3 separate regions of the Homo sapiens genome follow, and all the other regions are linked to region 3. The links come from fine-mapping of genetic effects on gene expression. A gene starts in region 3. Each other region holds a variant in brackets. All regions are shown on one strand. Distances are from middle to middle.

What was found. PIP is the estimated chance that this variant, and not a neighbour inherited with it, causes the effect.
Region 1: its variant is fine-mapped to the expression of EML1 in tibial artery (GTEx, PIP above 0.99).
Region 2: its variant is fine-mapped to the expression of EML1 in skeletal muscle (FUSION, PIP 0.95).

The regions. Positions count from the first base shown.
Region 1 is chr14:99,763,758-99,770,649 of GRCh38, reverse strand. It overlaps a transcript of EML1 not described here. Among named protein-coding and RNA genes, the nearest start is that of EML1, 26 kb to the left of the region's middle. RefSeq lists enhancers at 840-1,796, 1,797-2,755. The variant G/A (reference allele first, on the strand shown) is at 3,567.
Region 2 is chr14:99,734,564-99,741,455 of GRCh38, reverse strand. It overlaps a transcript of EML1 not described here. Among named protein-coding and RNA genes, the nearest start is that of CYP46A1, 54 kb to the right of the region's middle. RefSeq lists enhancers at 1,494-2,304, 3,116-3,926. The variant C/T (reference allele first, on the strand shown) is at 3,695.
Region 3 is chr14:99,790,165-99,797,056 of GRCh38, reverse strand. It overlaps EML1 (EMAP like 1), which reads right to left and starts at 3,644. Exons shown (of 22, transcript NM_004434.3): 1 at 3,514-3,644. The coding sequence starts at 3,580. RefSeq lists an enhancer at 2,892-3,723 and a silencer at 3,471-3,950.

The DNA of each region.
Region 1 (6,892 bases), 26 kb after region 3:
AGGAACATCCCTGTTTTACAAATGGAGAAAATGAGGCCCAGGGAGGTAAAGTAACTGAGCTGATACTATGGACTGAACATTTGTGTCCTCCCAAAATTCATGTGTTGAAATGCTAATGAAATGGTGGAATTTCGAGGTGAGCCTTTGGGAGGTGATTAGATCATAAGAGTGGAACCCACATGAATGAATTTATTTCCTTAAAAAAAGACATGATCTCTCTTCATGCAGGTCAAAATAAAAAAGATAGATAGATAGATAGATAGATAGATAGAAAGAAATTTTTTAAAAAGACACGAGAGCTTGCTTCGTCTTTCTTTGCTTTCCACCATGTGAGAATACAAGAAGAAGACAATTGTCTGTGAACCAGGAAGACAGCCCTCCCCAGACACCAGATCTGCCAGCACTTTGATCTTGGACTTCCCAGCCTCCAGAACTGTGAGCAATAAATGTCTCTTGTTTTATCCACCAAGTCTATGATATTCTTTTATAGTAGCCCAAACTGACAAACACAGCTCTGATGATCATAGGAGGACAGAGGAGGGTCATTCCACTATCTTAGGGGAAATGGGGGGGAATGGTACAAAGGTTAAGTGTCATCAAAACCCGGTGGACAAGGAGAGAAAAGCAAAGTGAGCAAAGTAAAGAGGCGGGAACGTTTGTGCTGGCATGTATGGGCCATCAGGTGGCTGGAACTTGCAGGGGACAGAAGGGACTGGTAGGGAATGTGGTTGGAGGGGTGAACTGGGCCAGACCAAGCTCAGCAGAACCCATTTCTATTCCCAAGAAAAGGAGGAAAGAGGAGCAAGAACAAGATAAGGAGGATCTGCTGGTGCTGATTGCTGCCCACTTCTCAGCCAGCTCCTCATGGGAATGTAGCCTCGGAGGAATTGTCCCTACATTTAAGTGGTGTCCTGAGAAAACCTGAGCATTAAAGGCAGGTACATCTGGAAGCCATCATGACATTTGTCCTGATGCTGAAACTCATGTGACTGATTTCTCAAGTGTAGGGGCAGGTACTGCAGAGACTTGATAGTGACCATCACCCTGAACTAGTTGTCAGGTCTCAGAAAGAAGTGATATCAGATTGACAAACCATTGAAACTGACCTGTCTGCTCTAAATGCATGGCCCTGGGGAGAATGGGATCCCTGGAAATGGAGAGGAGCTTGCGTCCCTGCCCACTGTGGGGGAGGCCAAGGTTACTCAGGGCTGGGGCCAGCACTGCCTACTGAGGACAAGCCTTGAAGGGCTGTGTGCTTCCACTTCCAAAGGGCCACCTCCTGCTGGTGCCCACGGTGAGGGCCCTGTGATGGGAGAAAATGATCCTTGGAACAGTGCTCCCTGTCTGTGTGCTGACACCCCAGCTCCCCGAGTGCTCAGCACCTGCTGCAAAACCGCTGGTGGGCTGACTTGACCGAGGAGATGGCCACGCTGCTCAGAGTCACTAGCAAATGTGGGGCTCAGAGGCTGGCTGAGAAAGGAGGACCAGACAGGGAGCCTTCCAGTTGGTTCCCCTACTAGGTAGAGGGGTCTGTAGTTCTTGGTAACCTCAAACCCACATCGAAACCACCAACCAATACCAGTTTGGGTCACCCTGGATCCCCAAACTGCTGTCAAAAATAATATACAAGCAGGCCAGGCGTGGTGGCTTACGCCTGTAATCCCAGCACTTTGGGAGGCCAAGGCAGGCAGATCATCTGAGGTCAGGAGTTTGAGACCAGCATGGCCAACATGGTAAAACACCAACTCTACTAAAAATACAAAAATTAGACAGGCATGGTGGCGGGTGCCTGTAATCCCAGCTACTCAGGAGGCTGAGGCAGGACAATCACTTGAACCTGGGAGGCAGAGGTTGCAGTGAGCCAAGATTGTGCCACTGCCCTCCAGCCTGATGACAAAGGGAGACTCCATCTGAGAAAAAAAAAAAAAAAAAGACCACAGAAGCAGCCCTGGGGATTGTTGGAATGCATCTCTACCTTCCCCTTTCCCCAGCTGTTCTGGTGCAAGAGTCACACAGTTGAAGCTCCGCCCATCTTTGTGCCCAGTAATCCCGTGCTGTCACAGAGATGGCCACTCCTGGCCCTGGGCCTGTCTGCCTTACCCCCACCTCCTCCCTTTGCTATATTCCAGCCATGTGGAGTGACTGATAGTTCCGTGAGCCATATCATGCTGCTCTGTGTCTCTGCGCCTGTGCCCGAGTTCCTTTGGCCATTTTGGACCCTCTTCCTCCGAGGCAGCTCCATCAACCCCACAATCCTTCCTGCCACAGACGTCACCACCCCAGCTCAGACAGCGGCTCCGTGAGACCCTCAGAGACCCCATCTCACCACTCCACCATGAAGAATGAGTTCCTCCCTCCCCTGGGTCACGTCTAAGAATAGCACACCCTTGAGAATTTCACTTAGCACGTGGCATTGTAATGGCTGGATTTCCTCCGCTCTAAGACACACCTTTATGCTTTCGAAGCTTTCTGGAATTGGGATGAATCTTACATTCAATGTGCACCCTTCGTGTGGGATCACTTCTCCGTGCCCCATCTCTGGGAGAAGCCACTGGGAAGTCGAAGGAGTGACTTCAAATCAGGGTGACTTGGCCTCTTCCACCTGATTTACCCTGTGCCCACCAGCCCAAGGCAGATGGGACCTGGCAAGCATTTACTGGATCTGAATTTGAATTCAAGGATTTCTTGAGGCCAGCTCTGAGTATAGTTGTGTGCTCAGCAAAGTAGTGTGGGGGGTGTTCAGAATAAATATAAGACAAAGTCTCTGTCTCCTTGAAGCTCATGGCGAAATCCCTGTCTTGTTGAAGGTGACAGATGTGTATGTGAATGAGGGGACTTGGGGGAGGCCTTGAGGAAAGCAGCCAACAGTAATGCAAGACAAAGCCACCTGCAACAGCACCTTGGCCTGAAATAAGGGGGGGCTTGTATTTGGCTTTTGTTTTTTGAAAAGGGTCTCACAATTTGTAAATGTCTTGCATTTTTTTCAAAGGATCCCACAGAGAACCCTAATTCCCATTCTCCATCCCCCTCTTTTTTTTCTTGAGATGGAGTCTCACTCTGTCACCAGGATGGAGTGCAGTGGCGTGATCTCAGCTCGCTGCAACCTCCGCCTCTCCGCTTCCTGGGTTCAAGCGATTCTCCTGCCTCAGACTCCCGAGTAGCAGGGCCTACAGGTGCGTGCCACCACACCCAGCTAATTTTTGTATTTTTAGTAGAGTTGGGGCTTCACCATGTTGGCCAGGATGGTCGCCATATCCTGACCTTATGATCTGCCCGCCTTGGCCTCCCAAAGTGTTGGGATTACAGGCGTGAGCCACCGTGCCCGGCCAATGCCGTTTTACAGAGAAAAGAACTGAGGCTTGGAGAGAAATAGTCTTGCCCAAAGTCAATGACTAGCAAGTGCTGGAACCAGGACCAGACCTGACCCATGCTCCCTCTCGGCTATAGTAAGCTCTGGTTCATGGAACCCAGCTCTTCTCCTTAAAATAGAAATTTGTAGCCCACTTTTTAGCAGAAGTCAAATCTCGTTTCCGTGAAATAAGAAGTAATCCCTGAAGTTTCTCACC[G/A]TGCCTTCTTCTCACACAGTCACCATGGCGATGGAAAAATATTATGCGGTGGGGGAATTATGGGACTGTGATTCAGCAGGGCCAGCAAGAGGACCTTTGGAAAACGGTGACTCCCAGTGGACACGCTGCATTTTCAAAGCCAACACTCCAGGATGATGGATTGCACTTTGCTTCCTATAGAAGCCCGGTGGCCAGCCTCTCTCCATTAGCGGCCGACCCTCTCTCTCCATGCAAACATTTTTCTTACAAGAAAAGCATTGGTCATTTATTACCATGATTGCTGCTTGGCAACCTGGGATTGTGGAAATCAGCTGGCTTCGTTAAATTTTAAACATTTATCCTTGCCAAGTGAAACAAATTATTGATGTTGATTTGGGCGGACATTTAACATTTTCCAAGAGAAATTCAATGGTGAAGAGTTCAAACCTGGTTTTTAAGACTAGAATGGTGGAGCTGTTCATTTGACATTAACTAATGCTGGAATACAATAGTCTTCCTCAGCTGCTGTTGGGAAGCCCCCCTAAAATTGCTAGTTGGTCTATGTGTGATAGAAACATACCAACTGAGGTCTTCAAAAACATTAAAAATTAGGCCGGACATGGTGGCTCACGCCTGTAATCCCAGCAATTTGGGAGGCAGAGGTGGGTGGATCCCCTAAGATCAGGAGTTCGAGACCAGCCTGGCCAACATAGTGAAACCCTGTCTCTACTAAAAATACAAAAATTAGCTGGCATGGTGGTGGGCACCTGTAATCCCAGCTACTCAGGAGGCTGAGGCAGGAGAATTGCTTGAACCCACAAGGCAGAGGTTGCAGTGAGCCAAGATCACACCACTGCACTCCAGCCTGGGCAACAGAGTGAGACTCTGTCTCAAAAAAAAAAAAAAAAAAGTAAAAGTTTAATTTCCATGTGATCCAACAATTGCACTTCTGAGTCTACCCCCAAAAGAATAGAAAGCAGAGACTCAGATAGGTGTTTGCACACCCATTTTCCTAGTAGCATCATTCACAATCGACAAAAGGTGGAAACAGCCTAAGTGTTCATTGATGGATGAATGGGTAAGTAGTAAATAAAATGTAGTAATCATTTTATTAACCATTAATCGTTAGCCATGAATGTGTAAGTAGTAAATAAAATGTGGTAACCATTTTATTAACCTTTAATTATTAACCATTAATCCAGGCCAGCCACGGTGGCTCATGCCTGTAATTCCAGCACTTTGGGAGGCCAAGACAAGCAGATACTTGAGGCAGGGGGTTCAAGAGCAGCCTGATAAACATGTGGAAACCATGTCTCTACTAAAAATACAAAAATTAGCCAGGCGTGGTGGTGCACGCCTGTAATCCCAGCTACTCGAGAGGCTGAGGCATGAGAATCACCTGCGCCTAGGAGGCAGAGGTTGCAGTGAGCCCACATTGCATCACTGCAACTCCAGCCTGGGCGAAAGAGCCAGACTCTGTCTCAAAAAATATATATATATATAGTGCGGTAAATCTATACAATGTAATATTTTTAACTTTAAAGGAAGAAAATTTTGACACGTTACAACACGGAGGAACCTTGACTTGAGGATATATAAATGAAATAAACCGGAAATAAAAGGACAAATACTATATGATTACACTCACATGATGTACCTAGAGCAGTCAAATTCATAGAGACAGAAAGTAGATTGGTGGTAGCCAGGGGCCTGGCGTGGTGGGGGGAGGTTATTGTTCAGTGGGCACAGAGTTTCCGCTTGGCAAGATGAAATGGGCTGTGGAGATGGATGGGAGTGAGGATTGTACAACTATGTGAATGGACTAATGCCACTCAACTGTACACTTAAAATGGTTAAGACGGGCTGGGCATGCCTATCTTACACGCCTGTAATCCCAGCACTTTGGGAGGCCGAGACTGGAGGATTACTTGAGCCCAGGAATTCGACACCAGCCTGGGCAACATAAGAAGACCCCACCTCTACAAATTAAAGAAAAAAAATTAGCTGTGCATGGTGGCATTCGCCTGTGGTCCTGGCTACTCGGGAGGCTGAGGTGGGAGGATCATTTGAGCCCAGGAGGTTGAGGCTGCAGTGAGCCATGATTGTTCCACTGCGCTCCAGCTTGGGCAACAGAGTAAGACCCTGTCTCTAAAAACGACAACAACAACAACACCAACAACAACAAAAACGATTAAGATAGTAAATTTTGTTATATATTTTGCTATAGTAAAAAAAACAACACTGACTGAGGAACGGGCAGGACAGCGGTTTGGGTGTCCCTATACACTGACTTGGATCCAGTCCTGGCCATGCCAAAAGTCTATCAAGAAACTGTATCACATCCTGCTCCAAGCTCCTGTGGTTCAGTGGCCATGTGGAGCCCACCCTGCTGCTTCTGTGCCTGGGCTGGAATTTGGGACTTGTCTCCCCTTTCCTTCTCAGCCACCTCCTTCTCTCCTTGCAGCGGCACTTCCAGGAAGCCTGCCCTGACGCTCCTTGGCCTTCATCTGTTCGCCAACCTGCATGCTCCACTAGACTGTGAATGTACAGAGCTCGCTGCTGAAAGCCTGCTCTTGAGACCAGCAGCATCCGCTAAACCTGGGAGCTTGTCAGAAATGCACATCACCCAGGGAGACTTCAGTGGGGAAGACCAACCCAGGGCTCTGCCTCGGCCAGGACGGTGGCCAGGGAAGTGGAGTGGAGGCTGAACAGGGCAGCTGAATTCCAGCCCCACCTGGCACTATCTGCGTGACCTTGGGCAAATCGCTTAGCCTCTCTGAGCCGCACTTCCCTCATCTGTAAAATTGCAGGGCTGCTGCGAGAAGGAAGGAGAACAACCTGGGTGAAGAGCTGCTGTGAGACCTCTGTGAGCTGGGGGAGGAGGCAGGAGGAGAACAGCTCTGGAGCCACCCAGCCCAACGTCCTCATGGAAGAGTGAGCCACACAGAGAGGGCAGTGAAAGGAGGAAGGTCACACAGCAAGTCAGCGGTGGCCTGAGACTAGCGGGCATCTCCACTGCCCCCACTCACTGGTACCAGGGCTCCTCAGCCTGCAGCCAACTGTCTCCTCCTCCAGAAACACTTGGGGACCTCGGCTGCCTGGCGGTGTTAGCAAGAAGAAAAGGGCGGCCCCAACACACCCCCAGCTGCCTTCCAAAGAAGCCTGCACAGGTCATGAACCTCTCAGAACACAAATTTCCTGCAGGCCCCGGCTCCTCCAGGGCTGTCCTCCACCTTGCATGGCAGAGGTGGGTTTGGTGATTTGGATTAGGGTCCTCCCGGTGCTCCCTGCTGCCCTGAGAGCCAGCCCACATCATTATCCATGCTTGTGTTTATTACACAACTGTG
Region 2 (6,892 bases), 56 kb after region 3:
AGGGATCTGTCAGCTCACCCAGCTGAATGTCTTGGTGAGAATCAGAAGCTGCAGGGCATTGGGGGAGGTGATAAAGACGGGGGAACAACTTCCCAGCACACGCACTTACAAAACGCACCAGCAAGGGCAGCCATGTCTCAACACACGAACAGGGTGACTGTGGCCCAGAGCAGGGCAGTGGGACTGGCGGAAGGTTACACAGGAGGAGAGACAGGGTCACTCTGCTGGCTGAACACTTCTGCAGGTTAGAGGCCTGTCCTTACCATACCTGCTGCAGCAGGGCAAATGCCCATCTGTCACAGAGGCTCACAGAAGTTAAGTGACTCACCCGAGGCCACAGAGCTAGGGAGTGGTAGAGCTGGGATTTGAACCCTGGTCTCTGATGGACCTGCATTCATTGCTCTGCTGAAAACAGAACAGCCTGCTCTTCGGTGCTTAGGATTGTAAAGTTGCTTTGCTGGAAACTTTCCCAAGCATGGGTGCAGCTTACAGCACAGAGACCTGGATTCTCTTCCTGCAGATTCTGGCCAGGACGGAGATGGGTAAATCACAAGGTCAAAGGCAGGAAAAGACAATCAACAGACCCAGGATGTGTAGAGCCAGCATCTTCTGAGGCCCCATCTATGCCAGGCAGGTGCCAAGCACTTACAGATCCTATTTCCAGACCCAGTGAGAGAATTGACGAACCCCCCATTTTAAAGATGAAGAAACTGAGGCTTAGAAAGGTGACGTGACTCTGCCCCGAAGAGACAGAGCCAAGCCTAGAATGCAGGCAACTGTAAAGGAAGCGCCTTTGCTGGCCGTGGTGTGTGGGCCGGTACTTGATGCAGGAGAGTTCCTGCTATAAATACGGTGCTGACTCCCGGGTAACCTTAGCTCCGGCTCACCCACCCAGGCACAGGGCCATAAATCCAGGGGCCGGCCACCTCCTGCTGTGCTCCTGCTCTGCAGAATTTTCCTGACACCCTAACAAGGCACTATGTTTTTCTCTACAGGTTGCAAGCTATTGGAGGCAATGTTGAGCTAGCCAACCCTGAAATGAGAGCTGCTTCTTCAGGTGCAAGCCAAAAAGCCCCACAAAATAGCCAGCCTCGCCCTCCTTGGGTGTGCAGGTGGGACTCCCGGGAAGAGGGGCCTAACCTGGCTTCTGTGCTAACAGGGTCTGAGGAACTGGGTTCGAATCCCTGCTCTGCCATTGACCAGCTGGGTGACCTCACATGTGCCTCTCTGAGCTTCAGTGTTCTTAGTTACACGGTGGAGCTGATAGCCCCCACCTCCAGGTAATAAACAAAACAGTGTGTCCAGGACACAGTGGGTCCTCTGCTCCCCTCATCTCCCTCTCTAGGTTGCTTATGTATTGGTGAAATAATAAGAGCTATAACCACTAACAATAAGCCTGGCGTTATTTTAGGTGTGTTACATGCTGTTAGCCATTTAATCCTTAGTGCACGTTGAGGAGTTAATGTCCCAGTATTGTCCCCACCTAATGGATGGGGAAACTGAGGCACAGTGCCCTTGAATAGTCTGCCCTAGGTCACACCAGTCACGAGTGGAGAGCTGAGAATGTTCCCACTGCCGACACGGCTTGGGGATCGGTTACTGAAAACAGGTGAAAATATTTCAGAGCAGTGTCCTTGGAGCAACCACTGGTTGCTGCCGGGCAGGAATCCTAGAAAGGCCTGAACTTCACACTGTGTGCTCCAGAAGACCCCCTTCTACCCATAAGTAAATATACCTTCCTGCACCAAGATGCCGCCTTTACTCCTGCCAGCCAAGTTCAACTTCAAACCCACATATTAGAGACAAAAGACCGTCACGTGGCATTCTATAGATGGGAAAACCAAGCCTGGAGCCTGCCCAGGGCCACCTGCCCACCAGGGCAGACAGAGCCAGCCTGGAATCCAAGCCCCACCTCCCAACCCAACTGGGCTGACCCTCTCCTAGATGGGGAAGGGATGGTGAGGCCCACGTCACCTCCCAGCCTCCAGGCTGCGCACACACGTGCATGCTCAGTGCCCATTCCTTTGCTCCGACGGGCTAAATATTGTCCTGGCCTTCCTGAAATACCCATCTCCATGCGGGTGGCTTTACAAACTGCTAAAACCAGGGCCATGTCCCTGGTGGAGAGGGAGAGCTATTCCGGGTTAGCGTCAGGTGTGGGGCAGGGCCAGCCAGAAAGAGCTGTCTGCTGGCTCCCGGGGCTCCCGCAGCCCCGGCGGGCAATTTCTGGCAGCCAGGACAACTGGCACCCAGTGGAAGAGGGTGAGGTCAGGCCCCTTCTGTCAATGTACCCCTCCCCAACACACACACACACACACACACACACACACACACACTCTCTCTCTCTCTCTGTCTCTCTCTCTCACACACACACACACACACACACACACTCTCACACTCTCACTTGCTCTGTTCCAAATCCTACCCAGCCAGGCCAAGGCGCTGGCACTGTTCATTAGTAACAGGGTATCTGCAGGGTGCTGTCACCCACGATCTGCCCCACACCCCCCAGGAGACCCTGATGAGTTCCGAGAGCCTCCGAGGTGGGGTTTTATGGAGAAGGAATCCACGTGCCAGCGACAATCGGTGGCTTACGAAGGAGGCCCTGCTGGAGGAGGCCAGACCTGGCTGCCTGGGCTGCCTGGGATGCCCATCTGCTGCCCAGGGTGCCCACCTGCTGCCAGCACGCAGGGCCCTGAGCACTCAGTGCACCCCAGGCACCCACAGGCGCTTTCACACAATATCATAAATTTAATTTTCACAGCCATTGGGGGGTTAGGACCACAGTCTCCATTTTTACCTGGGGACACGGAGGCTCAGAGAAGTTAAGCTACCTGCCCAAGACCACCCAGCCTGGAGGTGAAATAACTGGAATTTGAACCTGGACAGCCTGACTCCAGAGTCCCCCTGGATTTGGCCGTCCCCAGCCCCCATTCCGCCAAGGCTGGCTCTGTAACTGGCAGGAGCCGGGGGCAGCCAGCCAGGCACATAGGTGGCCAGTCCCCACCACAGCCTCTGGCCTCAGGCAGAGCAAAGGGCAGTGGGCAGACCCCAGAATCTGATCGCCCTTCTGCCTGCCTGTGTCGCTGGCCATTTTCAACCTAGAGGATATGAGGGCACACAGAGGGCCTGCCTGGTGCTGCCGGACCAGGGACTCAGAACGCCCAGAGGTCTCAGACTTGGGGAATCAGACGGAAGCTGTGTGCTCTCCCCCGCCGTTAAGTGTTCACACACACTCGTCTGCATGCGGTTCCAGTGGCCCACGGCATCCTGAGCCCACCCATGGGTCCCGTCGCAGCCCCTGCCCCTCTGTCCTGGGTCAGCTCTGGCCCCGGCTGCCAGCCCCAGGAGAGCTTGAATCAGGCACAGCTTCCTGCACTGGCTACACTGGGCAGTCAGGGGGTGTGGCGGAACCCAGCTTTGAAAGTCAAGCTCCCCCCTTCCAGCGGCACAGGCCCCCCAGGCGTCGGGCAAGGAGGAAGGGGGTCCAGCTCACAGCTGCCTGCAGCCTGCGGGGGCCCCAGTGCCCTCGGCGACTGGCGGCCTTGGCTCTGCAACCGGAGCCACAGCGGGTAAATATAGCGCTGCCACTCACCGGCGGAGGGGCCCTCGCCGTCCGACATGGTGTGGAAGATGGGCGGCCGGCTGGCCACCAGCCTGCAGGGTCACTCAGAGCCTCAGCGGCTGTCACCCA[C/T]CCAGCAGGGCTTGGGGCTCCTCCGCGTCCAGCCCCAGGCAGCGTCCCGCCCCGGCCGGCCTGGCCACCCCCCCATGCTGGGCTGGGCAGATAAGAACGTGCTCAGTGCCAGCAGCCTGTGCGATTGGTGGATAAATCTGGGCACTGCCCTCCCCCGCCCAGGGCCTCTCTGGGGCAGCCCCAGGATGTTGCTTGAGAAGCCACTGCACCCTTAGGTGCTTGGTCAGTCCCCAAGACTCCAGCTCCTGGGGACTTGGGAATGCCTGTACACTCTTTCCTTGGGAACGGTTCCACCCAGCCAGCAAGGGACGTTTACGGACATTTAGGGAAGGAGAATAACAAGTGATGCTACCACTGAGTACATGCCCGGGACCAGCAGTTATGTGAAGTGTGGCCACCCCTGTCATCTCACTGCTCTCCAGAGCTGCTGCGACCATCATGTCCATGTCACAGAGAGGTTAAGGGACCCACCCAAGCCACCGGGTCAGTACGGGGCGTGAGCAGGATCTGGAGCCAGGCTGTCTGTCTCCAAGGCTGCAGGAAGGCCGTCCCTTGCCTTTGATTGTTTGGCCAAAAGCAGCCAGCACTTCGGGCATCTACTGTGTGCTGAGTGTGCCACGTGTTGGGGGTCGACAGGGGATGGAGACAGGATCCCCAGGGGCAGTCATGTGGTCCTGGCAGAGTGTGGGTGCTCAGGAAAAACTGGTTGAAAGAATGCACTCCAGCAAGCTCTTAGTATGCTCTTGTGTACCTGGCTCAGAGCCAATCCAGCCCCTCCCCTGGTCCCCACAAAGTGCAGGGCAGGACCAGCCAAGGGCTGGAGATCCCAGAGGCATCACCCCAGGGTTGGGCTTTGCTGGGCCCCCCAGGCCCTAGGTCTACCTAGTTCTGTATGCAGAGACCAGAGGGAATGAAATGGCTTAAAGAGAAGGGAGAGAAACTCAATCTGAGAGATCCAGGAGGGCTTCCTGGAAGAGCAGGCATTTGAATTATCTTTAAGTGAAAATAAAGTTAGTTCTTTCTTTCTTTTTTTTTTTTTTTTTGCCACAGGGTCACTCTGGGGTGCAGTGGTATGATCACAGCTCACGGCAGCCTCAACCTCCTGGGCTCAGGTGATTCTCCCGCCTCAGTCTCCCTAGCTGAGAACACAGGTCTGTGCTGCCACACTTAGCTATTTTTTGTAGGCGGGGGGGGGGTCTCACCGTGTTGCTCTGGGTGGTCTTGAACTCCGAGCTCAAGCAATCCTTGTGCTTCGGCCTCCCAAAGTGCTGGGATTACAGGCATGAGCCACTGTGCTCAGCCCAGAAAGTTTTTTTTTTTTTTTTTTTTTTTTTTTTTTTTAGATGGAGTCTTGCTGTTGCCCAGCTGGAGTACAAGTGGCGCCATCTCGGCTCACTGCAACCTCCGCTTCCCAGGTTCAAGCAATTCTCCTGCCTCAGCCTCCTGAGTTGCTAGGATTACAGGCACCTGCCACCATGCCCGGCTAATTTTTGTACTTTTAGTAGAGACAAGGTTTCACCACGTTTGGCCAAGCTGATCTTGAACTCCTGACCTCAAGTGATCCCCAAGTGCCTCGGCCTCCCAAAGTGCTGGGATTACAGGCATGAGCCACCGCACCCAGCCCAGAAAGTTTTTTGAAGGGAATAGAGGGTGTTCTAGGAAGAGAAGCCAGCAGGTGTGGAGGTGAGAAAGCCCGGCTGAAGAGTTACAGGGGTCTCTGGCAGGGCTAGAGGTGGCAGGGGTCGCTGGCAGGGCTGGAGGTGGCAGCAAGCCTGAGAAGAAGGATGATGCTTATGGCAGGGGAGGCCTCAGGGCTGGGGAAGTCAGAGGAGGCTTCCTGGAGGAGGGGGCAGATGCTGGTGCTGAGGACTAATGAGCCTCAGGAAAATGAGAGGCGGGTGGAGCAGCGTGCTGGGGCATCCTGGCAGCTCTTCCATCTGCACTGAGGCCTTTTCTGGCTCAGGGACCTGGGGAGTGAAGGCAGGAGGACGAGGCCTCCATGTTTCCAAAGGAAGCCCTATCTGTGGGTGGGGTGGGGAAGAAGGCTGTGAAGTCACAGCCTCCACGCTTCACCCCTGCACTGGCCATCGGAGAGAAAGAACTCAATCTCTATGGTATAGGCATTTGCCTGTGCTGTTCCCTTGGCCTAGGAATTCTCTGTCCTCCTCTTTCCGTGGGAAGCTGTGGCTGCCCCTAAAGGCAGCTCAGGGGCCCTGCTCCATTTTCCCTTGCCCCACACTCCACTCTGCCAACTCCGACCTCACTGTGGTCAGTGCCTAGTCCTGGCTGTGTCCCCCTCTTGGTTGGCTCTTGCTGCCCTGTCAGATAATGAACTCACCATCACTGATGGTATTCAAGCAGGGCTGCGCAGCTGCTGGGCGGGGACACAGCGGAGGGAGCTCAAGCATCATGTAGGGTTAAATGGCTGTGGGGTCCCTCCCAGGTGACCAACTTGTCCCGTTTCCCTGGGACTTCCCCTGTTTTAGCCCTGAATGTCCTCCATGGATCCTGGAAACTGACCCCCCACCAGCTTCAGACAAACCAGGACTGGTGGCCATCTTGGGTCCCTCCTAACTGAAGTTTTCTTTCCTCCTAACTGAAAATTTAATTTTAAGAGAAAAAAGAGAAAGACAAAGCCAGACCTCCCCTGGAACTGTCTCCTCCACCCCGAAAATTCCCCTCGTCCCTCCGCATCCCCTAGGTGTGATTCCAGGACAACTCTGGGGGAGGGGCGGAGGTGGAACCACGGTGCTCTGTGCCTTGGGCTGGGGTGAGGGCGCGGCAGGGAGAAAATCGGGTGCAGGTCAGCAAAGACAGAAGCCCAGTGTCTTCCCCTGCAAAGTGGGAGGAGCCCCGCCTGCCCGGCTGTGGGCTGAACTGAGGTAGCTCTGCGGCACTTGGCAGACTTCGGGTATGCACAGGTGGCATCTGTATCCCCGGGGAGGGGGTGTGACCAGGGAAGGACTGGCGTGAGTCCCTCGCTGGGCACCTCTGCTTTGCCTTGGCGCGGCAGCTGGTGTCAGGCACTGGAGGGAATGGGAGGCATGGACTGGGGGCTGACCTGTCTCCTAGGTCCCACCCCGCTGTATGGGCTTCACACACTGTGGCCCCTCTCAGTGCCTGCTGTCTGGCACACCCAGGCCCATGGGTCAATGCCAGGCAGGGCCTGTGGCCACATCTCGGGTCTCAACTCCTGTC
Region 3 (6,892 bases):
TAAAATCAGAGAGTGGTAACAACTGGACAATTCTGTGAATATACTACACGCACTTAATGGTACACTTTAAAAACACATTTTTATGGTATGTAAATATTTCAATAAAGCTATTACTCTCTCACACACACACACACACACACACACACATACACACACAAAGATTTAGACTGGTATCCAAGCCCTTCCTAGTTCTGTGGCCTGATAAAGTTGCCAAATCTCTTCGAGCCTCCGTTTTCTCAGGCACAAAGGAAGGATGGTAACACCACCTACTTCAAAATGAGGCCTCGAAGAAAATATGGAGTTATTTCCCAAATCATAAATTGTCTTATAAAGGATAGCTACTGTTCACTTTTTAAAACACTTCAGGTTTTTTTTTTTTCCCAGCATTAAAAGAAGTTTGTGAGCTGGGCATGATAGCACGCACCTGTAGTCCCAGCTACTTGAGAGACTGAGGTAGGACTGCTTGAGCCCCAGGAGTTTGAGTCTGCAGTGAGCTGTGATCATGCCACTGCACTCCAACCTGGGTCACAGAGCAAGGTGTGGCTCAAAGAAAAAAAAAAAAAAAAGCTTGTGATTTCTAGCTCACTTTACAGATTTCAAATACTCTGAAGAAAACAATGCACACATTTTCTGCTTAAATGAGAAAGACAGTTCCTGAAAGATGAGGATGAGCCTTTTCAGGAGGCTAGATACTGCCTAACTTTGCATTTAATGTCCACTACAAATTATGAGGAGAGACACCAAGAAAGAAGTATAAGAGAAGACAGAAATTTCATTCATTAGAACAAACTTTTCTCTTTCTCCCTTCTCATTTACACATTATCTTCTCTCTCTCTCTCTCTCTCTCTCTCTCTCTCTCTCTCTCTCTCTGAGACAGGGTCTCACTTTGTCACCCAGGCTGTAGTACAGTGGCACAGTCATAGCTCACTGCAGCTTCAAACTTCTGGGCTCAATCAATCCTCCCATCTCAGCCTCCTGAGTAGCTAGGATTACAGGTTCAAGCCACCATGCCCAGCCAACTTTTAAAAATTTTTTGTAGAGGGGGGTCTTGCTATGTTGCCCAGGCTGCTCTCAAACTCTTGGCTGCAAGTAATCCTCCCGCCTCAACTTCGCATATCTTGATCTTGTCTTTATTTGACCAGAAGGAAATTAACTATGACAGTCATCCAAATAATATGTGTGAATTATATTTTCTAAAGCTGTAACCATGATTTTTTAGTTTCTGTCACTATTAACAGCATGACGCATACTGAACATATGAAAATGTATGAGTTCATGTATTATGCTGCTGTCTTGCCATTGTAATGTAAGTCTCTCATTTAAAAAGAAAAAATTGTTTGCCAATGTAGCTAATGAAATATCCAAATGTTTAATTTAGTTCCTAGTGAAATGGCATTTCTGTGATCCACTGCTTTAATTGAATCATCATAGTAATTAACTGACTTGTATTCATTTATATCTTCACTTAATGAAAGCCTCTTAAAATGTTTCACATCAAAACATCTGTTGCCTAAGACATCACCAGTTAACATTGACTTCTGCCCCATAGGCCACTCTTGCTTTAAACTTTATTCATTAGACAACCTAAAAAAAAAATAACAAATACAGAGCTGAGAACTTTTTGAGAAAAGTAATTCAATAGTTATAAAGTGATCTTATTGTTTGATTCTAGTTAAGGTGGTTTTTCTTTAAACCAATACTTCTACAAAATATAAGAGTTGGTTTTTACTTTCTTCTGGACATCACCACCAGTAAAATACCATGCCAATATCTCTAGGCTGGCAATTAAAAGGAAAATGCAGAAAACGAAAACATTCATGAACAGACGTGTAGGTCAACTTCATGACTAAACTGCTATTTAGGAACAGTATGACCAGGCCCCAAACAACTGCTCCAATAAAAATATCTAGGCTCATTTTCATATCGCAAATCAAGCTGTCAATAATACGCCCACAGATTAAATTTGTAAGACCTGATGCCTCAAAGTCATTTAATACAAATTTCAGCCACATATCTTTCCAACTAAGCATAGGGAGAATTCTACCATAAGCATATAACTACTTTTTAGATCAAAAACAATAATTCAAATATGATTGATTATAAGTCAATTAAGGAACCTATTCAAAATGTTAATTGAGGAATCTATTTAACCTACTGGAGAGCAAAACCGTTCCCATGACTCTATACTATAAAGTATTCCAGGGACCACCAGCATACCAAATACATTCTACCTGCCCTCAACACCTTCTGAGGCTCAAAAACACAGGTGTTCTGCTCTTGGAAACTGGCGTTAAATTCAGAGAAAAAGCAGAAACTTTCTTTAATTCCACTGAAGAGGGAATTACTAAATTCATGAAGGCCCACAAATGGTTCAGATGTAAAGTATAAGCTGCAAAAGCTATCAGAGTATACATTCTACCATGAACAAGATGATAAATTTCACCAGAGATAAAAAATACCACTACAGAGGATGAATCAACACACTCATTACTCTTTACTGCTACAGTGACAAACAGGTGTCGAATAACAAGAAAACTTTCCCTAAATCACAATACAATAGCAAAATAAATTGCTCCAGTTGTCAAAGGGTCTAGAATTCAAAATTATTCCGACTGCACTTAAGCAAATTCTATCAAATACACATTTTTTTTTCCCATTAACAAACTTTTGGGGCCCTTTGATGGAGCAATAAATCCAACATGTAAAAAAAAAAAAAAGTGTGGTTAACTTTTGTGCGTGAATTATCACACATCATGTTCTGATAAAATATTCAGTGTGCTATGAAAATCTTTTTCAACCCTGCCAATGAGACTGAAATCTTTCAAGCATGTAGGATTTCATATTTTTAAAAAGATGCCATATTGGTGGATATGAATGTTTCCTTCCTGTAAAATTGCAAAAACAAAAAAAGAAAAAAGAATCCATTATCCCATAAACAAAATAAGAAGCAACACTGAGGCCAGGTCCACTTTGGCTTTCCATTTAAAAAGCTCTAGATTGTATTAAATTGTGATGATTTCATTAAAGTAGACCTGAATGGGTTCTGGGGGTCCAAACACTGCGTGCATCCTCGCAGGAGGGTTTTGTTATTAAAGGATTTGTTTCCCGAGTTCTTCATCCAGTCATTTCCAAACAGATGTGGGTCGGGAAGCAAAAAAGCAACACGTTCCCCGGAACGCGGAGGCTGCCCGGGCCTCCCCGCCGCCCTGTGCCCCACGCGCCTCCGCCCGGGCGCGCTCCGCGGGTGCTGGAGCCGGCGGGGTCCGCGCGCCAGTGCCGGGAGCCGGGGTGGCGGCGGGGAGCCCGGGGCGGCCCGGAGCGAGGCGCGGCCCCGCGGCTCCAACACAATGCGCCGGCGGCGGGAACGGGGACCGCGCGCCCCTCCGCAACAACTTTGCGCGGCCTCGCCCGCGGCCGCCGGGCCTCGGCCCCTCGGCTTGGTCCCCGCCGTCGCCGTCGCCGCCGCCCGCCACCAGCCGCTCGCCGCCCCGGCCCCGCGCGGCCGCCCCTCACCGTTGCAGAACTGGAGCAGCGAGGACGTGTCGTACAGGCTGCTGTAGCTGGAGAAGCCGTCCTCCATGCTGAGGCCGCCGGGCCGCGCCCGCTCCCCGGCCCGGCCGCGCCGCCGCCGCTCACCACACACTGAGCTGAGCCCGACCGCGACCGGCGCTGGCGCTGGGGCCGGCCCTGCTGTGGCGGCTGCTGCTGCCGGTTACCATGGCAACCCCGGGCCCGCCGCCGCCGCCGCAGCCGCGCGAGCCCAGCGCCCGCTCCGCCCGCGAGGGGGCGGCCTCGGCGGCCGCGGGGCCCGGGCCGGGAGGGGGACGTGGCGGGGCGGGGCCGAGCCTCCCCGCGCCTGCGGCCTCTTTCCCCGCGGGGAGCGCGGCCCGGGCGGCCTGGGAGCCGCAGGGGCGCGTCTGCCGCCCGCTGTCCCCTTGGCCAGGCCCCGCCTCCGCGCACGGGGGCTCAGGGGCTGCGGGGCGCGGCGGGCGGCCCTTGCGGGGGCGCGGGGACAAAGACCAAGGCCGGGAGAGAGCGGGCGCGTGGGGCCCGGGGTAACCTCCGCCACGGACACCCAAGCCCACCCGCCCCCGACGCGCTGTTCCCGCGCCCGCGGGCAGCTCCACGACCAAACATGGACAACGCGCCCGCACATTTCGGCCGTTTCCACGCCGCGGCTCACTGTGGCCCACATCCGACCGGCGCGTTCCTCTGTCCACACGTTTTTCCGCGGCAGCAAGGCCCTGCCTCAGTGAGACTTAGCACGGGACTGGCAAGTCAGCTCGAACCTTCGCTCACACTGGGCCAGAGAGGCTATCCTGGTACCAGGCTGGAAGTCCCCCGTGTTGAGGACTCGACGCAGCTAAAACATCGCTTTGTGGTTTCTCTATGATCAGCCCCTGGGATACAGATCTGTCACGTTACAGGCTTGTTAACTTGCTACAGGACTAAGGAAATCAGTATTTATTCTACATCAGAAAGACACCAAGAGTTAGGAGAAAATAGCGCAGTCGGAGAAACACATAGATCTATGAGTTTGTAACTTTTCCAGGCCATACACGTATAAATGCTGTTAATGGTTCGCATTTTATACCCATGGAGTAAAGTAAGTAAAGATGCGCCAAATAACGAGTGGGAAGCAATAAATTAGAATATATAAAATGGATCATCTAACCCAAGAATGAGCTTGGTCCCAAAGAGACTGCAGAACGTTTACACTTCCTGTTGCATCAGTCATAATTCAGTTCCATGCCAAAATCTGAAATGGTAGGTACTAACTTGTGCAGGTTGAATAGAGTAGGTGAAATAAGAACTGAGTAAGTTAAAATTAGGAAAACTCGTAGGTCTCGCTTGGGCTCAGAGGCCTGTCCTTCCAGAAGCCCAGCTTGGACATCAGTAGATGGCAGGTGAGGGACAGGGCTCTGTCACTCTGCGTGCGGCACGGTTAGTGCATGGGTTAGTAAGGACTGGTGCTATATGCTGTGGGCAGAGGGAGAAGTTTAAGAGCTTATTCCTGTCCTAGCAGGATTGTTAATTGGGAAGATACATTGTGAGTGAAGGCTGAAGGGCCACAGGTGCTGCGGGTTTGACTGTGACTTGGTGGATGGAGGACAGTGGGCAGGACACTGCTAGTGAGGAAAGAAGGAACGGTGCCTGCAGACATTGTGCAGACAAGTGGGAAATAAGACTGGACTGAGGGCAAGGGGCCAGGTAAGAGAGGCCCCAAGAGCTGCAGAGGAGCCTGAACCAGACTTGGGGGGAGATGGAGGAACGCTTGGAGGGTTCACGCAGGCAGGCCACTGTTGAGAGCTGTGTTAGGGAGCTGGGTCTGCCTGCCGACTGGGCTGCAGGGGCCGCGGCCTGTTGCTGGAACAGCCCAGGATGTCTGCAGTGCTCCAGAAATGAGGCACCAAGGGCCGGCCAGAGGGAAGTTGCTATAGGACCATACAGCTGGAAAGACAGGAAGGTCAAGCGGGGACAGCACAACCTCCAATTAGAAGTGCCCTGTAGCAACTGGAGAGAAAGAATTGAGATTTGGGAGTTGTCAGCAAAGGGGTTGTAGATGAAGTCTCTAAAGAAGAGAATAGAAAATCGGACAGGGGCTGGGGTACAGCCTTGACAAAGGAGAGAGAAGGACATTCCGAAGGAATGGTCAGAGAGGCAGGAGAATCAGCAGAGGACATTGTCTCTCTAAGCTAAGAGCACAGAAAGCTTCCAGTGGGCATTTGCGTAGAGTTCTCTGCAGGAAGAGTCAAGGAGGATGAGGCTGGGGTGAGGCTCTTCTGTCTGGTGGCAGAGGGCTCCCAGGTGACCTGGAGCACCCTGGTGATGCAATAGGTTGCTGGATATCAAAGGGAGAGGGCAGGTACATGCACGTTAGAACACTTTGGCAGGGAGGCCGAGGGCGGGGCTTATGCCTGTAATTCTAGCATTTTGGGAGGCCGAGGTGGGCAGATTGCCTGAATTCAGGAGTTCAAGACCAGCCTGGGCAACATGGGAAACCCCGTCTCTACCAAAAAAAATACAAAAAATTAGCCAGACATGGTGGTGTGCACCTATAGTCCTAGCTATTTGGGAAGCTGAGGTGGGAGAATCACCTGAGCCCAGGAGGTAGAGGTTGCAGTGAGCCAAGATCACACCACTGCACTCCAGCCTAGATGACAGAGTAAGACCCTGTCACAAAAAAAAAGGAAAAGAAAAAAAGAAAACTTTGGCAGGGAAAGGAAATGGGGGGAGGGGCCAAAGTTGGCAGAGGGCCAGGTAAAGTGTCCTCTTGCGCCCGCCTGGCACAGGTGGGTTCTCTGCCTCTCTAAGGCAGCAGGCAGGTGCTATGGAGAAGCGGCTTTCAAAGGGTGAGACTTAACACCCAGATGCACATTTCATCTTCCTCATTTCCCATCTGTCTATTCCAGTGTTCATGCTCTCTCTATTCCACTTTGCAGTTTTATACTTCAGGATATGTTGGATGATTGGCATAAAAAGCTGAGGTGTGGTATTTCTGAACTTGAAAAGGAAGTAATAATCATGAATAATTAGAAGATGGTTTTCTTTAAAGCCGGGTGTGGTGGTGTGTGCCTGTAGTCCTAGTTATTTGGGAGGCTGAGGTGCGAGGACGACTTGGGCCCAGGAGGTTGAGGCTGCAGTGAGCTATGATTGCACCACTGCATTCCATACAGTGCAGCTGGGGCAATGCTCAACTCCAGCCTGGGCAACAGAGTGAGACCCGATCTTAAAAAGAAAAAAAGAATGTTAGCATTCCTTATGTTTAATGTTATGATATTTGGTGGCCACAATTTAGACATGGGAAAGGAGACATATATTTAAAACTTCAGCTGCCAAATTGAGCTGGAGATTTTCTTAGAAGATATTATTTCCACTAAAGTTACAAATA